Homo sapiens: one gene and its partner. The protein of the gene in region 2 interacts with the protein of the main gene of each other region in a pairwise test. Each region holds a gene or a part of one and is shown on either strand. Other genes may lie near its edges.

What was found. The genes of interacting proteins can lie anywhere in the genome.
Region 1: the proteins of OR10AG1 (region 2) and EBAG9 interact in binary tests that used the Homo sapiens proteins (3 or more experiments, as listed by UniProt).

The regions. Positions count from the first base shown.
Region 1 is NC_000008.11:109,543,020-109,546,774, forward strand, and holds part of EBAG9 (receptor-binding cancer antigen expressed on SiSo cells), read left to right. Parts: intron 1-3,755. UniProt on the Homo sapiens protein: May participate in suppression of cell proliferation and induces apoptotic cell death through activation of interleukin-1-beta converting enzyme (ICE)-like proteases.
Region 2 is NC_000011.10:55,968,046-55,971,800, reverse strand, and holds the start of OR10AG1 (olfactory receptor 10AG1), read left to right. Parts: upstream 1-1,855; 5' UTR 1,856-1,893; coding exon 1,894-1,909; intron 1,910-3,293; coding exon 3,294-3,755. UniProt on the Homo sapiens protein: Odorant receptor.

The DNA of each region.
Region 1 (3,755 bases), on a different chromosome or scaffold from region 2:
GAAAGAAAGGAGGAGTCAGCATTGTTGCATGATTTGAACTTGAGTAAACCACTGGTTGGGATGTTTTTGACAGAAGTATTTAAATAACTCGAGTACAATTTTTAATATTCTGGTTCTTTTTTTTTTTTTTTTTTTTTTTTTTTTTTTAACAGTCACTGTTCTTTTCATCCTGTCAATTAGTAGGCCACTTCCAGGTTAGGCATTCAGTAAATCTTTCAGCTTATATGGAGAGACAGCCTCCATATGTACAAAACTACTTGAGTATTGCTAAGGTAACATTTTAGAGCCCTGTCTTTGTACCTTAATAGCCTACAAGCCCCTTCTGACCCTAGAAATAGAAAAGACTAGTGTGCGTTTTGCCTTTCCTTAGAAGAAATTGGCAATGATGCCTTTACAGAGCAATCAAGATCAGATACTATGAGAGTTAAGTATGTTTTTCTGGCTTTCTGATTTTGTTTTGTTCTTATTTTTTATGTGTTTGTTTGGAACTTTCGTATTGAGGTATAGCATACAAACAGTACATACAGTCAAGTATGTGGTGTTACTACTCAGATTGAGATATTAGATCTTAGCTCTCTAATGCTTCAGTATACCCTATCAGAGATGACCATTTTTTTTTACTATATAATTTTTAACCTATTCAATGTAATATTTTATTAGGTAAAAAGCTGCTTTTTTCAAGACTTTAGGAGTCTTGAATCCCCATGAAATGCATTTTTAAAAAGCATGGGCTGGGCATGGTAGCTCACACCTGTAATCCCAGCACTTTGGGAGGCTGAGGCAGGCAGATCACTTGAGGCCAGGAGTTCGAGACCAGCCTAGCCAACATGGCGAAACCCCGTCTCTAGTAAAAATACAAAAATTAGCGGGTGTGGTGGCATGTGCCAGTAGTCTCAGATTTGGGGGTGGCTGAGGCACGAGAATAACTTGAACCCAGGAGACAGAGGTTGCAGTGAGCCAAGATTGTACTGCTACACTCCAGCCTGGGTGACACAGCAAGACTCTATCTCAATTAAAAAAAAAAAAAAAAAAAAGTATGTTATAGTACAGGGATGGTGTATTTATCCAGGATGATTTTACTCCTTATGTTTCTAAATGTTATTGCTTATCTTATGCTCATGTAAGGTAATTAAAAAACTAATTAACATTTCAATTTTAAAAAGGTATATAGCTGTCCCTTTAATGTGGTCACATGATAATTATTACTTAAGTTAGGTTTTATCCGCTTTTAAGTAAGTATGTGTAGAACTGAAGTCCAAATATACTGCTTGTGCTTTTTTATTCTGGGAAAAAAAACTATCAAATTACTGTATGTTTTTTCTTTTTGTTTTAAGAAGTCAGCACTCTAAATAATTGTATTAATCAAGTGTTGTGATTGTTTCTAAAGGTGTTACTAATGGATTGAGAGGCCAGTCTGTTTTAGTTGTGATTTTGTTATTACCTGGTTGTTTCACCTTGAGCAGAACCGTTAACTTCAGTGTATCTTAGTTTCCTCATTTAGAAAATTTAAGAAGTTGGATGACGTATTCTCCAGCTGTTCCAATGACAGGAATCATGATTCTGAATACATAGTAATTCTCCTCCTTTGACAAAGAGAAGGCAAGGAAAAGCTAAGACATGAGATTCCATTATCAGTAATGTTATTCCTGTAAGTGTGTGCACATATGCACACACATATGTATGTTTGCCTGTGTATTTCTTGTGACTTGATTTAACATGTGGTCTGTTCTACCTCTCAACAGTGGAAAAATGACTATCTCTAATGGATTAACAGATTTTTTTCCCTCTTTCGTGTGTATTTTGAGGCTCTTAGTCGGGACATTGTCATAGTTACTTAAGTTTTCAACTTTAACTTGTGCCAAAACTCATCTTAAGAAATTTTTAAAATTAAATAGTGATTATTAGGGTAAATATATGCAGTACATATATAGTATACAATATATGCAATACATATATAGTATAGGTGACTAAGATGTATAAGAAAAATTTGGAAATTAAGAACCATGTTTAAAAAGGATACAGACCGGGCGTGGTGGCCCACACCTGTAATTTCAGCACTTTGGGAGGCTGAGGGGGTGGATCACTTGAGGTCAAGAGCTCGAGATTAGCCTGGCCAACATGCTGAAACCCTGTCTGTACTAAAAATACAAAAATTAACCTGGTGTGGTGGCAGGCACCTGTGGTCCCAGCTACTCAGGAGGCTGAGACAGGAGAATTGCTTGAACCCGGGAAGCGGAAGTTGCGGTGAGCTGAGATTGCACCATGGCACTCCAGCCTGGGCAACAGAGCGAGACTGTGTCTCAAAAAAAAAAAAAAAAAAAAAGGCTACCAAAATAATGCCAGTTTTACCTTTTTTTTTTTTGAAATGGAGTCTCACTGTGTTGCCCAGGCTGGAGTGCAGTCATGTGATCTCAGCTCACCGCAACCTCCGCCTCCCAGGGTTCAAGTGATTGTCGTGCCTCAGCCTCCTGAGTAGCTGGAACTACAGGCATGTGCCACCGCACCTGGCTAATTTTTGTATTATTAGTAGACGCGGGATTTCACCATATTGGCCAGGCTGGTCTCGAACTCCTGACCTCGTGATCTGCCCGCCTCAGCCTCCCAAAGCGCTGGGACTACAGACGTGAGCCACCGCGCCCAGCATAGTTTTATCATTTTTAGAATCTTTATTCCTATCATTGCTATGGCTGTAGTTTTCAATTCCTATATCATCTCTTTCATAAAGACATATATCTTGTTATTTAATCATAGGGAGGCAGTATGAGTGTGATATTTAAGGACTGAGACACTACAACCAGACTCTTTGGGTTCAAATTCCAGTTCTATAACTTATCAGTTCTGTATCTTTGGCAGCTTACTTAACCCCGCTGTGCCTTAGTTTTCTTATCTGAAGTAGAGACAAAATAGTACTTGCTTCAAGTCCTTCCCAGGGTTGTTGTGAGCATTGAATGAGTATTACATGTTAATCACTAAGAAGAATGCTTTTTATGAAATATAAAGTAAGCTATTACAGTATATTGAAATGCTATTGTGAAATCAGATTTCTGTTTTTAGAGAAGTTCTGAAATAATGTTTCTTTTCACTAATTGTCCTAGTTTCCTAATGGAAGTTGGCTTTCTAGAAAGTAACAAATAATTGATACAAGATTATGATGGTGTTAATGAGTTTTTAAAACAGTATTCTAACCAGAATATGAACACTGTTCTAATTTAAGTGACATAATATTGTTCAAAAATGTCTTCGTGTAGATTGTTTTAACAGCTCTTTTGAGCTCTAATTGAAATGCAATAAACTGTATATAATTAAAGTATACAATTTGATTAGTTTTGATGAATATATATACACTCACCTATGAAACCACCACAACTGAAGCCGTAAGTATATCCATTACCTCCAAAAGTTTCGTCATGTCTGTCAGTGATCCTTCCTTCCCACTTCTCCCTGCCTCATTACAAGGCACTGCTGATATTTTCTGTCACTCTATATTTGTTTATAATTTCTCGAGCAACCTTGTCCAGTCTGCTGCCTGTGGGCCTCATATAGCCCAGGATGGCTTTGACTGCAGCCCAATGCAAATTAGTAAACTTTCTTAAAACATTATGAGATTTTTTTGCAATTTTTTTAGGCTTATCAGCTCTGGTTAGTGTTAGTGTATTTTATGTGTGGCCCAAGATAATTCTTTTTCCAGTGTGGCCCAGGGAAGCCAAAAGATTGGACACCCCTGTTCTAGAGCTTAAAAAATACTATATATGGAA
Region 2 (3,755 bases):
TGGAATGATTTCTATTCCTTTGGATCTAGAGCCAGTAATGTGATTATGGGGTAGAATGGCAGTTCTGTTTTTACCTCTTTCAGGAATCGTCACACTGCTTTCCACAATGGTTGAACTAATTTACACTCCCATCAAGACACTGTAAGTGTTGCCTCTTCACTGCAACCTCACCAGCATCTGTTATTTTTTGACTTTTTAATAATAGTGATTTTGACTGGTGTGAGATGGTATCTATCTCATTGTGGTTTTGATTTGCATTTCTCTAATGATCACTGGTTAGTGATGGAAAGTTTGATTTGCATTTCTCTAATGATCACTAGTTAGTGACCATTAGACCCGCTCAGGGAGGGACGGGCCCACAAACGCTCCGAGGACAACGGCTCTGCAGCAGGGCCAAAGGTGCACTCACTCCGGGAGCAGTGGCACACAGGATGTATGGGCACACTCACAGTGGCAGGGAAGGGAAGGCAATGTCCTCTGGCACACACACTCACTGGCAAAGGGATGCTGGTATTAGTGTTTTTATAATTAGCATAAATAATAGGAGAGAGACATAAATAGGGGGTGGCTATGGGTGAGTGAGTGCAGGCAAAGTGGCCCGAGAGGCTGCAGTGCAGGGAGGGTGCTGGTGGGCTGGCCTGTGTCTGCACAGGCTACTCTGCTGGATCAGTCTGCTGGTCAGCCGGGGGTCCACCAGCACAGGAGCTATGATGTGGCCCCCAGGAGGTACCTGGCTGGGGGCCAAGCTGGGACCCAGGAGAGGCCAGCAAACTGAGTGGTGCTGAAGTTAGAATAGCCTCATGTAGTGGGTGAGACTGCCGTGCAGAATTCAGGTCCCATAGTTCCCATAGGGCTAAAGCTTCCTACGGGAGCAGGTCAAGCCTGGGGGGATGGGCATCCCTGGCCATGCTCCACTACAGACACTTTCACACTAAACCCTCTGGATTCCACACAGGCTGGAGTTCTGCCCCTACCACTTGTCTAAGCATCTCTCCCTGCCAGTTCAAGTGTTACTTGTGGTCCAGGGGTTTTCTCCTGCTGGGATTCGGAGGCTCATGGAAAGAGAGGGTTGCTCCTTGCCCATTCAACTCATGCTTTTGCAGGAGTCACTGGGGGCCAGGAATGCTTCCTGTGTGTGGTACCCCCATGCAGAATTCCTTTCCTTCTGAAGATTTGCTAGGAGTGCACCAATCTTCCTGATGTCCTGGTCCCTCGTGGGCGATGTTCCTCTTGACTGCGTCTAGTGGGACGTCTTGGAGTGGTATATTACATTTTCAATCAGCTGGATACATTTCCCTGGTGCCTTATAGACAACACAGAATGAAATAAATGTATAGATAGATTTTCTCAGCAGAATTAACATGTTTTAATATCCACAAAAAAAGTTAACCTAGGAACAGAGGGTTCCACATCTGAAAAAGAATCTCACCGTTCAATATGTCGAAGACATCAAGCATATCATGTTCGTGTGATTAAACACATGATATATTTTTTAAAGGTCTAGTTAATTTGGATCTGGATAAATTATTGGAATAGAAGTAAGGCAGACAAATCCACACTAAGTATTAGGGGCCTCAAATACACAGTTGGAAAATTTTTAACTTTTTCCTGAAAGTAATACTAGACAACTAAATGGTATTTAATTAACTCCCCTCATGAGGAGATGAAGAGGAGGATAAGTTTACTTAAAGTAGTTTTGAAAAATGAATCAGAATGATTGACAAACAGAAGCAGCCTTCTAGAAATTAAACTGATACTCAAGAGAAGACACATCCCAGGTTGAGTCTGACTATTCCTATATAAGAGCTGTTGCTGTTTGAAACAAGCAAGCGTATTGCAAAATTACAGTTCCCGAGAAAAGGAAGAGCTTAAAAAGTCTGTACAGACAGCTTCATGCAAATCCCTAAAGGTAAGCCATAATTGGGTTGACAGACTATTTTATTTAAGAATAGTTACAAGTTTGTGGATAGAAATGCAACTAATAAAACAGAAAAGCATGAAATTTTGAGACCTTTATCTGAAAATTAATTATTTAACATTTAAATCATGTATCTCTTCACTACAAAGTTAAATAAAATTAGATGTCCAATAATGGTAAAATTGCATTAGTGATGAAAAGTCATTTAAGGCAATTTTGAAAACTAGTACTAATAGAAATGTATAAATATGAGATAGTATTTGTCTGATCACTTTCATTTATCAACGTATTAAGTCAAATGCATTGGCTGACCGGGCTAAAATAGGTATAGGTGCAGCAGATTTGAAGACACAGAAAAAAAGAATTTGTTTAGAAAGTTGGAGAACAAACGTTAAGCAAGTGTAATGGGAATTGACAAGCAGTGATTTCCTCATATTGGATGACATTGACATGAAGTGAAGCAAGACAGTGTGTTTTTGTTTTGTTTTGTTTAATTTTTTGGTCCCATTTATATGCTCTGGCCACTTAGATGGCCAGAGTAAATGTTAGCTGGGTTTAATCAAAGAATTTTACTTTAATAAGGCAACAGGATGAAGGGAAAATAGAGAGAAGGAATTGTATTTGGTTGAAAGGAACTGTATTTGGTTATATGACAATGGAGAAATTCACTTAGATAAAAAAAAGAAATGTAAAAAAAATTGTGATGAATTTCTACATCTTGATTAAGTTATAATTTAATTACTATTTAGCATTCACTGTATTCAGGGCAATAACAGGGGAAGTCAATAAACTGCCTACTGGTATTAGTGTTTTTATATTTAGCATAAATAATAGGAGAGAGACATGAAGTAGAGCAACAATAATGCATGTATTTAGTCTCTCAGTAACCAAGAAATTGTTTAAGATAATTGATTCTCACTGGTGCATAAAAGGAAAAGTTTAAAATTCATTTTGAGTATGAATTAATCGTAATATTCAAGGGCAACATTTTGAATTAAAAAAACTGGAATATGACTACCAATACAAAGAAAAATGATATTCTCAGATGAAATAGTAAAAGCCTACACTATAACTCTACTCTTAAGTGTGAAATAATAAGATGTTATTCCTCCATAATATTTTCTAAACAACAATGCATGCTTCTCAATGCCTCTGGTTGCATTATATCCCAGTATAATAAAATATATTGAGGTTTCATTTCTTAAATTGATTTTAATGCTAAATCAGTTTATTATCTAGAAACAGAGCAAGTACTGGTGAAAATGACTTAAGAGCTTAAGTAAGTATATTCCTGTATCTCATTTAGTTAACCCAAGAGGAAAATATTGTTCAAAATATGGATGAATTAACTGTCTTGAATTTGCTATATCTGCAGATGGAGAGCAAACTAAAAGAGAAAAATCAAATGTGACTACAATAATGGAATTTGTTCTTTTGGGGTTTTCTGATATTCCCAATCTCCACTGGATGCTTTTTAGTATATTTTTACTTATGTATTTGATGATCCTGATGTGCAATGGCATCATAATACTACTAATAAAAATTCACCCCGCTCTCCAGACTCCCATGTATTTTTTTCTTAGCAATTTTTCCCTTTTGGAAATCTGTTATGTAACAATCATTATCCCAAGAATGCTCATGGACATTTGGACTCAGAAAGGAAATATTTCTTTGTTTGCTTGTGCTACACAAATGTGTTTTTTTCTTATGCTTGGAGGCACGGAGTGTCTCCTTCTGACAGTGATGGCCTATGACCGCTACGTGGCTATTTGTAAGCCTTTGCAGTATCCTCTAGTGATGAACCACAAAGTCTGCATTCAGCTGATAATAGCTTCCT